2 linked regions of the Homo sapiens genome follow. The protein of the gene in region 2 purifies or fractionates together with the protein of the main gene of each other region. This does not show direct contact. Each region holds a gene or a part of one and is shown on either strand. Other genes may lie near its edges.

Region 1 (3,815 bases), on a different chromosome or scaffold from region 2:
TTTCCCTGGCTCTGAAGGCCCCTGCTCTGTTGGGTCTAAAAAGGGTGTGGAGTCCAGCGAATCAGTTTATCAGTCTTCCTCGCATGTCCTTCCTAGTCCCTTGTCTTAAAAGCGCTCCCATCAGGCCTCATATCCAGCGGGCAGCAGATGCGCTCCTATGGCACCAGGCCCAGGAAGACAGCACCAGAAGCCCCAGACCCATCAAAAACCACAGACACCAGAAGCTGCCGCTCATCTTATTTTTTTACAAAATAAAGCTCTTCCCTTCCTCCTCCATGTTCCCTGCACTCCAGTTCCGACCCCAGAGCAGGAGGGAAGACGGGCAGGGCGCCCACTACATGGCATGTTCCTGCTCCTGGGGCACCACACTGCCCCGCTGTGAGGACTCCAGCCCGCCCCAGAAGCCGAGGTTTCTCCTGAGCGAGGTGAGCACCTGTACCTGGAGGTTGGAGACAGGGGCAGGGCTGGCAGCCAGGGCTGCGGTAGCCATGGTGCGGTTCAGCAGCGGATTGGGTGGCGTGCTGCTGGGCGGGTGTGTGGCCTTCCAATAGGCTTCCAAGTACTCCGCCAGATGCTCGCAGGCATCCTCCAATTGGTTCTCATCCAGGATGATGTCAAACATTTCCTGTGAAGGCGGGGTTAGGGGGCAGGGCTGGGATGAGTGGGGCATGGCCAAGGGGGTTGAGGGTGTGGCCTGGGTGCAGTGGGTAGAGTCAAGGGATTGAAGGACAAGGTTAAAAAGAGGCCTCTGGATGTAGAAGGGAAGGAGAGCTCTCAGATCTACAGATTGGCAGAACTGCAAGAAGTTTTGGCACTCAGTCCAACTCCCTCATTCTAGAGATAAGGCAACCAAGGCTGGGAGACAGGGCTTGACTCTCCACGCAGAAGGGTGCTTCTGGGGCTTGAACCCAGTCTTTGACTGACGGGACCTGCGCTCTTCCCAGAAGACCAGTCTGCACCCACAGGCCTGACCCAGGTGTTCCTGGTCACCCTGTCTCTCATGTAGGCCAGAGGAAACCAGGACAACCCAAATGTTCTCCCTCCATTCCCTTCCCTGGGATCTAGGCACTCACAGGGGGGCACTGTGCCAGCTTTTCCGAGGCCGCTATTTGGACATTGAGGTGTTTGGACTGAGACTTTCCTCGGGACTTGATGAGCCTTTGAAGTACCTGGTTTGGGGAGAGAGAAAAGGAAGAGGAGCTAGAGGGACTCAGGCAATGCACCCAGTCAGAGAGGCGGGTCCTGGTTGGATCAGCATGGAGAGCCAGTGTCAAGACCCTTGAATGCTCCATAACTCTCAGCCCTGGGCACCTCTGCAGAAAGGACCTCAGCAGCCCTGTGTCTACCCTATGCAAAGCTCAGGCTCTCTCCTGGTGTTATGCCAGCCTTCCTTAGGGGCTATATGAAGGGCAGTGATTCTCCTTCTCAACTTCTCTAACATTGTTTGTAGGCCCGCCCACTCTCCTTTTTTTTTGTTTTTTTTTTTTTAAATTTTAGAGACTGGTTCTCGCTCTGTCACCCAGGCTGAAGTGCAGTGGTGTGAACATAGTTCACCTCTACCCTGGGCTCAAGCGAGCCCCCAGCCTAGCCTCCTCAGTAACTAGGGCTACAGGCACGTGCCATCATACCCCACTAATTTTTTTTAATTTTTTTGTAGAAACAGGGTCTTATTATGTTGCCCAGGCTGGTCTGAAACTCCTGGCCTCAAGTGATCCACTTGCCTCAGCCTCTCAAAGTGCTGGGATTATAGGCGTGAGTCACTGAGCCCAGCCACACCCTCTATATTAACAACGGCAACAACAACAGTCTTCCTTTATGGGGCACTTGCTACATACCAGCATTGTTCTGTGCTTTTCACATGATCAATTGAGTCCTGACAACAATCCTGTTAGATAGCTGCTATTATCATTCTCATCTCAACAACAAGAACCATAATTATAATAATGCAAAACCGGAAACTAATCATGAGGAACAATCACACAAACGCACACTGAGGGACAGACAGTCTACAGAATAGCTGTCCTGTACTCTGCCTAAATGTCAGTCTCTGGAAAATTCAAGAAAGGCTGAGGAAGCCTTCCAGATTAAAGAAAACTATACTGGCTGGGTGCGGTGGGTCACACCTGTAATCCCAGCACTTTGGGAGGCCAAGGCGGGCAGATCTTGAAGTCAGGAGATCGAGACCATCCTGGCTAACATGGTGAAACCCCATCTCTACTAAAAATACAAAACATTAGCCGGATGTGGTGGTAGGCGCCTGTAGTCTCAGCTACTCAGGAGGCTGGGGCAGAAGAATGGAGGCAGAGCTTGCAGTAAGCCGAGATGGTGCCACTGCACTCCAGCTTGGACAACAGAGCAAGACTCCGTCTCAAAAAAAAAAAAAAAAAAAAAAAGAGGGCCGGGTGCAGTGGCTCATGCCTATAATCCCAGCACTTTGGGAGGCCAAGGTGGGTGGATCACGAGGTCAGGAGATCAAGACCATCCTGGCCAACATAGTGAAACCCCGTCTCTACTAAAAAAATTAGCCGGGCATGGTGGCAGGTGCCTGTAGACCCAGCTACTTGGGAGGCTGAGGCAGGAGAACGGCGTGAACCTGGGAGGCGGAGCTTGCAGTGAGCTGAGATCGCCACTGCACTCCAACCTGAGCGACAGAGTGAGACTCTGTCTCAAAAAAAAAAAAAAGAAAGAAAGAAAGAAAGAAAACTAGGCCGGGCGCAGTGGCTCACACCTGTAATCCCAGTACTTTGGGAGGCTGAGGCGGGTGGATCACCTGAGGCCAGGAGTTCAAGACCAGCCTGGCCATCATGGTGAAACCCTGTCTTTATTAAAAAATAATAATAATACAAAAATTAGCTTGGCGTGGTAGCACATGCCTGTAGTCCCAGCTACTCACGAGGCTGAGGCATGAAAATCACTTGAACTTGGGAGGCAGAGGTTGAGGTGAGCTGACATCATGCCACTGCACTCCAGCCTGGGCGACAGAACAAGACTCTGTCTAAAAAACAACAGGCAACAAGTGATCCTGGGTTGGTTCCTGGATTGGGGGAAATGTTGCTATGAAGGGCATTCTATACCGGCACAGTGGCTCACGCCTGTAATCCCTACACTTTGGGAGGCAGGGGTGGTGGTGGATCACCTGAGGTCAGGAGTTCGAGACCAGCCAGGCCAACATGGCAAAACCCCGTCTCTACTGAAAATACAAAAATTAACTGGGTATGGTGGCAGGCGCCTGTAATCCCAGATACTCAGGAGGCTGAGGCAGAACTGCTTGAACTAGGGAGGCAGAGGCTGCAGTCAGCCAAGATCGCATCACTGCACTCCAGCCTGGGCAGCCAGAGTGAGACCCTAGCTCAAAAAAAAAAAAAACCAAATATGGACTATATTTTAGAAATAATTCTTGAATTTTACAATTGCATCATGGTTGTGTAAGATAATGATGTTGTTCTTAAGAAACACAATATAGGCCAGGCATGGTGGCTCACGCCTATAATCCCAGCACTTTGGGAGGCTGAGACAGGTGGATCTTTTGAGGTCGGGAGTTCGAGACCAGCCTGGCCAACATGGTGAAACTCTGTCTCTACTAAAAATATAAAAATTAGCCAGGTGTGGTGGTGGGCGCCTGTAATACCAGCTACTTGGGAGGCTGAGGCAGGAGAATCACTTGAACCTGGGAGGCAGAGATTGCAGTGAGCCAATATTGTACCACTGCACTCCAGCCTGGGTGACAGAGCGAGACTTCGTCCCCCCTCAAAAAAAAAAAGAGAGAAAGAAAGATAAAAGTAAATGTTTCAAAATTTGTGAATCTGAAAAAAATT
Region 2 (3,815 bases):
AATTATAAAAGGTCTGTCCTAATCCTCAATAGTTTTAATAAATATCCCCTCTTCAGGCCTACCCACGTATTGCTTTAGAAGCACTTTGGCTGCCTTCATTCTTTCTGCCTCACTGAACAATTTACCTACAACATTCCACGCGCCCCTGTAGAGAACTGACAACATGCTTGCTATTTCCTCAGGCTTGGGGGCCTCTAACCTGGCCTAATCAATCCTTCTCATCTTTTGTACCCACCTTTTGCAGGAAACCTGTGGCTTTTTTTTTTTTAAAGTAGAGACAGGGTCTCGGTATGTTGCCCAGGCTGGTCTTGAGCTCCTGGGCTCAAGCGATCCTCCCACCTTGGCCTCCCAAAGTGCTTGGATTACAGGCGTGAGCCACTGCACCTGGCTGAAATCTGTTACTTTAATGTGGGAGAATTAAAAGGAGGTAAGGGGTTGATAATAACTTACTGAGAAACAGTGAGAAATATCCTTGATTTCTGATTCCACCCAATTTCTAGCATAAGATCAAAGCCCTGAAATGAAACTTAAGCCAAGAAAAGTCTATGTTAATCCGTCTTATTTCCTGGTAATGTGACCGTCTTCAGAGTTCACCTGGGGCTATGGATATTCTCAGGAGACTGGCATGTTCTAAGGGTAGATGTGCCTATGGTGTGGGGGGAAGGTCTCGTAACTGGTGAGTTCAGTTCCCAGCCCTGCCAGTGGTGTAACTTGTGGCGAGTTCAGTTCCCAGCCCTGCCAGTGGTGTAATTTGTGGCGAGTTCAGTTCCCAGCCCTGCCAGTGGTGTAACTTGTGGCGAGTTCAGTTCCCAGCCCTGCCAGTGGTGTAACTTGTGGCGAGTTCAGTTCCCAGCCCTGCCAGTGGTGTAACTTGTGGCGAGTTCAGTTCCCAGCCCTGCCAATGGTGTAACTTGGAGCAGGTTATTTGGTTTCTCTAGCCCTTGTTACTCATATGTAAAGCGGAAATGACAAACACACCACAGGATTGCTGTGGGCAGAAAATGGAATAGAATGGATGTAAAAGTGCTTGCAAACCATCCAGCCCCATATAAACGTCAGGGGTGACTGTTATCACTAGTAATATCACTGTCATCTCCTACGAAACTTACATAAGAGGTAGAAGTAAAACACGGCTAGTGGAAAACCAGCCTACGTGCCAGCAGCTTTGAGAGTTGAGGGGATTCTGAAACAAGGAATGGGAATATGTGTCCAGTTTCTTACCCGGTGTTCGGCCAGGAACTCGGGTGTCAGCGTCCAGGGCGCATTCCTCACCACCTCATCCACGTAGCGGCAGTGCTGGACTGCGTCATAGCGCTCATTCTCGTTCATCACCGTGAAGCCTTTGAAGTTGTGTGTGAGCTCATCACTGCAAACTGGTTCACCACATCATAAATTGTGTGTTGGAGTCCTCTTTGCTTAGCACCTCCTCAGCCACCGACCTCTCCCATCTTCTCCCACTGCTTAGGACTGCAACCATCTTCCCCAACTGGAAAAAAGTCTTCTAAAGGTGGTTGAACCTGGGTGATAACGCTTTTCCTAATGCAGCGTATACCTTCAGGAGCAACACTCACTAAACAGTATGTTCATACTTTGGAGAAGGGACAGTACAACAGGTGACCAAGATCTTTGACTCTGAAATAAACCTGCTGTGCGTGTCTGCATCAATTAAGTCCTTAAACATGTTTTCCTGTTTTATTCACACTGGACTGGACCACCTAACATTTCCTTGGCAGACTTTTGTACTCCAGTTAATTCAAAATGATAAACTGAAATCTAAAGCAAATGTTTTAAAGTGGACAACGGAAGTCACGGCTGCTCCTGTGACCACAGAAACTCAGCTACAAGCAGTGAATAAATGCCAGATGGCACAGTCGAGGAGCTTGAAGCTCCTCTCTCCAGGTTTAGTTTGCTGGTACCCATATACTTCATGTGTGTTAGAGAGGCTGTACTACATCCTTCATTTAAAAATGGAAACAAGAGCCAGTGTACTCAGCTGAGAAAGACAGACTGTACTATCATCTTTTTCTGCACAGCACCTGAAGTCACCAAATGTTTTCTTACCTCCCACAATGAGGTACGTATTAGGGAAAAGGTTCTTCGCTTGCATCAGAGCTCGGGCGTGACCAGAGTGAAATAAGTCAAATATTCCATCGGCATAAACTCTCACAGGTCGCTCACCTAAATCCAAATGAAAGAATTGATCACAAAAATACCTTTTTTTTTGTCATTTTTATTTTTATTTTTGAGGCCGAGTCTCACTCTGTCACCCAGGCTGGAGTGCAGTGGCGTGATCTCGGCTCACTGCAACTTCCGCCTCCTGGGTTCAAGTGATTCTCCTGCCTCAGCCTCCCAAGCAGCTGGGATTACAGGTGCATGTCATCACGCCTGCCTAATTTTTGTGTTTTTAGTAGAGATGGGGTTTTTCCTTGTTGGCCAGGCTGGTCTCGAATTCCTGGTCTCAAATGACCCGCCAGCCTCAGCCTCCCAAAGTGCTGGGATTACAGGTGTGAACCACCATGCCAAGCCACAAAAATACATTGATTCGATATCTTGTACTTGGCAAATGGAACTGGCTCTGTGTGACAGTTCCATGACTGTATACTCCTTTCTTTTTTTTTATTTTTTTCTTGAGACGGAATCTCGCTCCATCACCCAGACTGGAGTGCAGTGGCACGATCTCGGCTCACTACAACCTGCAACTCCCGGATTCAAGCGACTCTCCTGCCTCCGCCTCCTGAGTAGCTGGAACTACAGGCGCCCACCACCAAGCCCAGCTAATTTTTTGTATTATTTTTTAGTAGAGATGGGGTTTCACAGTGTTAGACAGGATGGTCTCGATCTCCTGACCTCGTGATCCACCCGCCTAAGCCTCCCAAAGTGCTGGGATTACAGGTGTGAGCAACCGCGCCCGGCCCAACTGCATACTCCTTTCTTTAGGTGTTCTCTGGGTATTCACCCTGATTTTAGGGGTAGGTTGGGTTATGAAAAATGACTATAAAGACCTTTTCATTTTTTTTTTGAGACAGGGTCTCACTCTGTCATCCAGCCTGGAGTGCACTGATGTGGTCACAGCTCACGGCAGCCTTGACCTCCTGGGCTCAAGTGATCCTCCCATCTCAGCCTCCCAAGTAGATGGGACCACAGATGGACACCACCATGCCCAGCTAATTTTTTTTTTTTTTTTTTGTAGAGACCATGTTGCCCAGGCTGGTCTCGAACTCCTGGACTCAAGCAATCCCACCTTGGCCTCCCAAAATGCTGGGATTCCAGGTGTGAGCCACCATGCTCAGCCTATAAAGAGATTTTTGACATCATCATCTGCACTAACTGCCTCTGTTAGCCTGGTTGTACCAAACTTTTCAGGCACAACAAATAACAGAGAACTGTCAACTTAGAAGCCAGGAAATGATTTCCCGGGGAACAAGACTAATTCCAAAGTGAAATAAACATTAAAAACAGAATCAGCATAATGGTCCATCATGCTTTAAATAATAAATCTAAGGAGTCCATGTAACTTATTCCCTTTCTGTGAATAAAGGAAGAGCTATTTTACTGCAGCAGAAACTGACAGGAGCATTTACATCATTTGGGAAAGATAGGTCAAAGTGTCATCAGATACACTATGCTGAGGTTGAGGATCAGATACACCATGCCGAGGCTGAGGACCAGATACACTATGCTGAGGCTGAGGACCAGATACACTATGCTGAGGCTGAGGACCAGATACACTATGCTGAGGCTGAGGACCAGATACACTATGCTGAGGCTGAGGACCAGATACACTATACTGAGGCTGAGGACCAGATACACCATGC

Evidence for each region.
Region 1: the proteins of PCYT1A (region 2) and CACNB1 purify together in Homo sapiens (co-immunoprecipitation; one large-scale study listed by IntAct). This does not show direct contact.

What each region holds. Positions count from the first base shown.
Region 1 is NC_000017.11:39,176,911-39,180,725, forward strand, and holds part of CACNB1 (voltage-dependent L-type calcium channel subunit beta-1), read right to left. Parts: intron 1,170-3,815; coding exon 1,074-1,169; intron 626-1,073; coding exon 440-625; coding exon of another isoform or gene 335-439; exon of another isoform or gene 97-334; intron 1-96. UniProt on the Homo sapiens protein: Regulatory subunit of L-type calcium channels. Regulates the activity of L-type calcium channels that contain CACNA1A as pore-forming subunit.
Region 2 is NC_000003.12:196,246,146-196,249,960, forward strand, and holds part of PCYT1A (choline-phosphate cytidylyltransferase A), read right to left. Parts: intron 2,179-3,815; coding exon 2,062-2,178; intron 1,374-2,061; coding exon 1,222-1,373; intron 1-1,221. UniProt on the Homo sapiens protein: Catalyzes the key rate-limiting step in the CDP-choline pathway for phosphatidylcholine biosynthesis.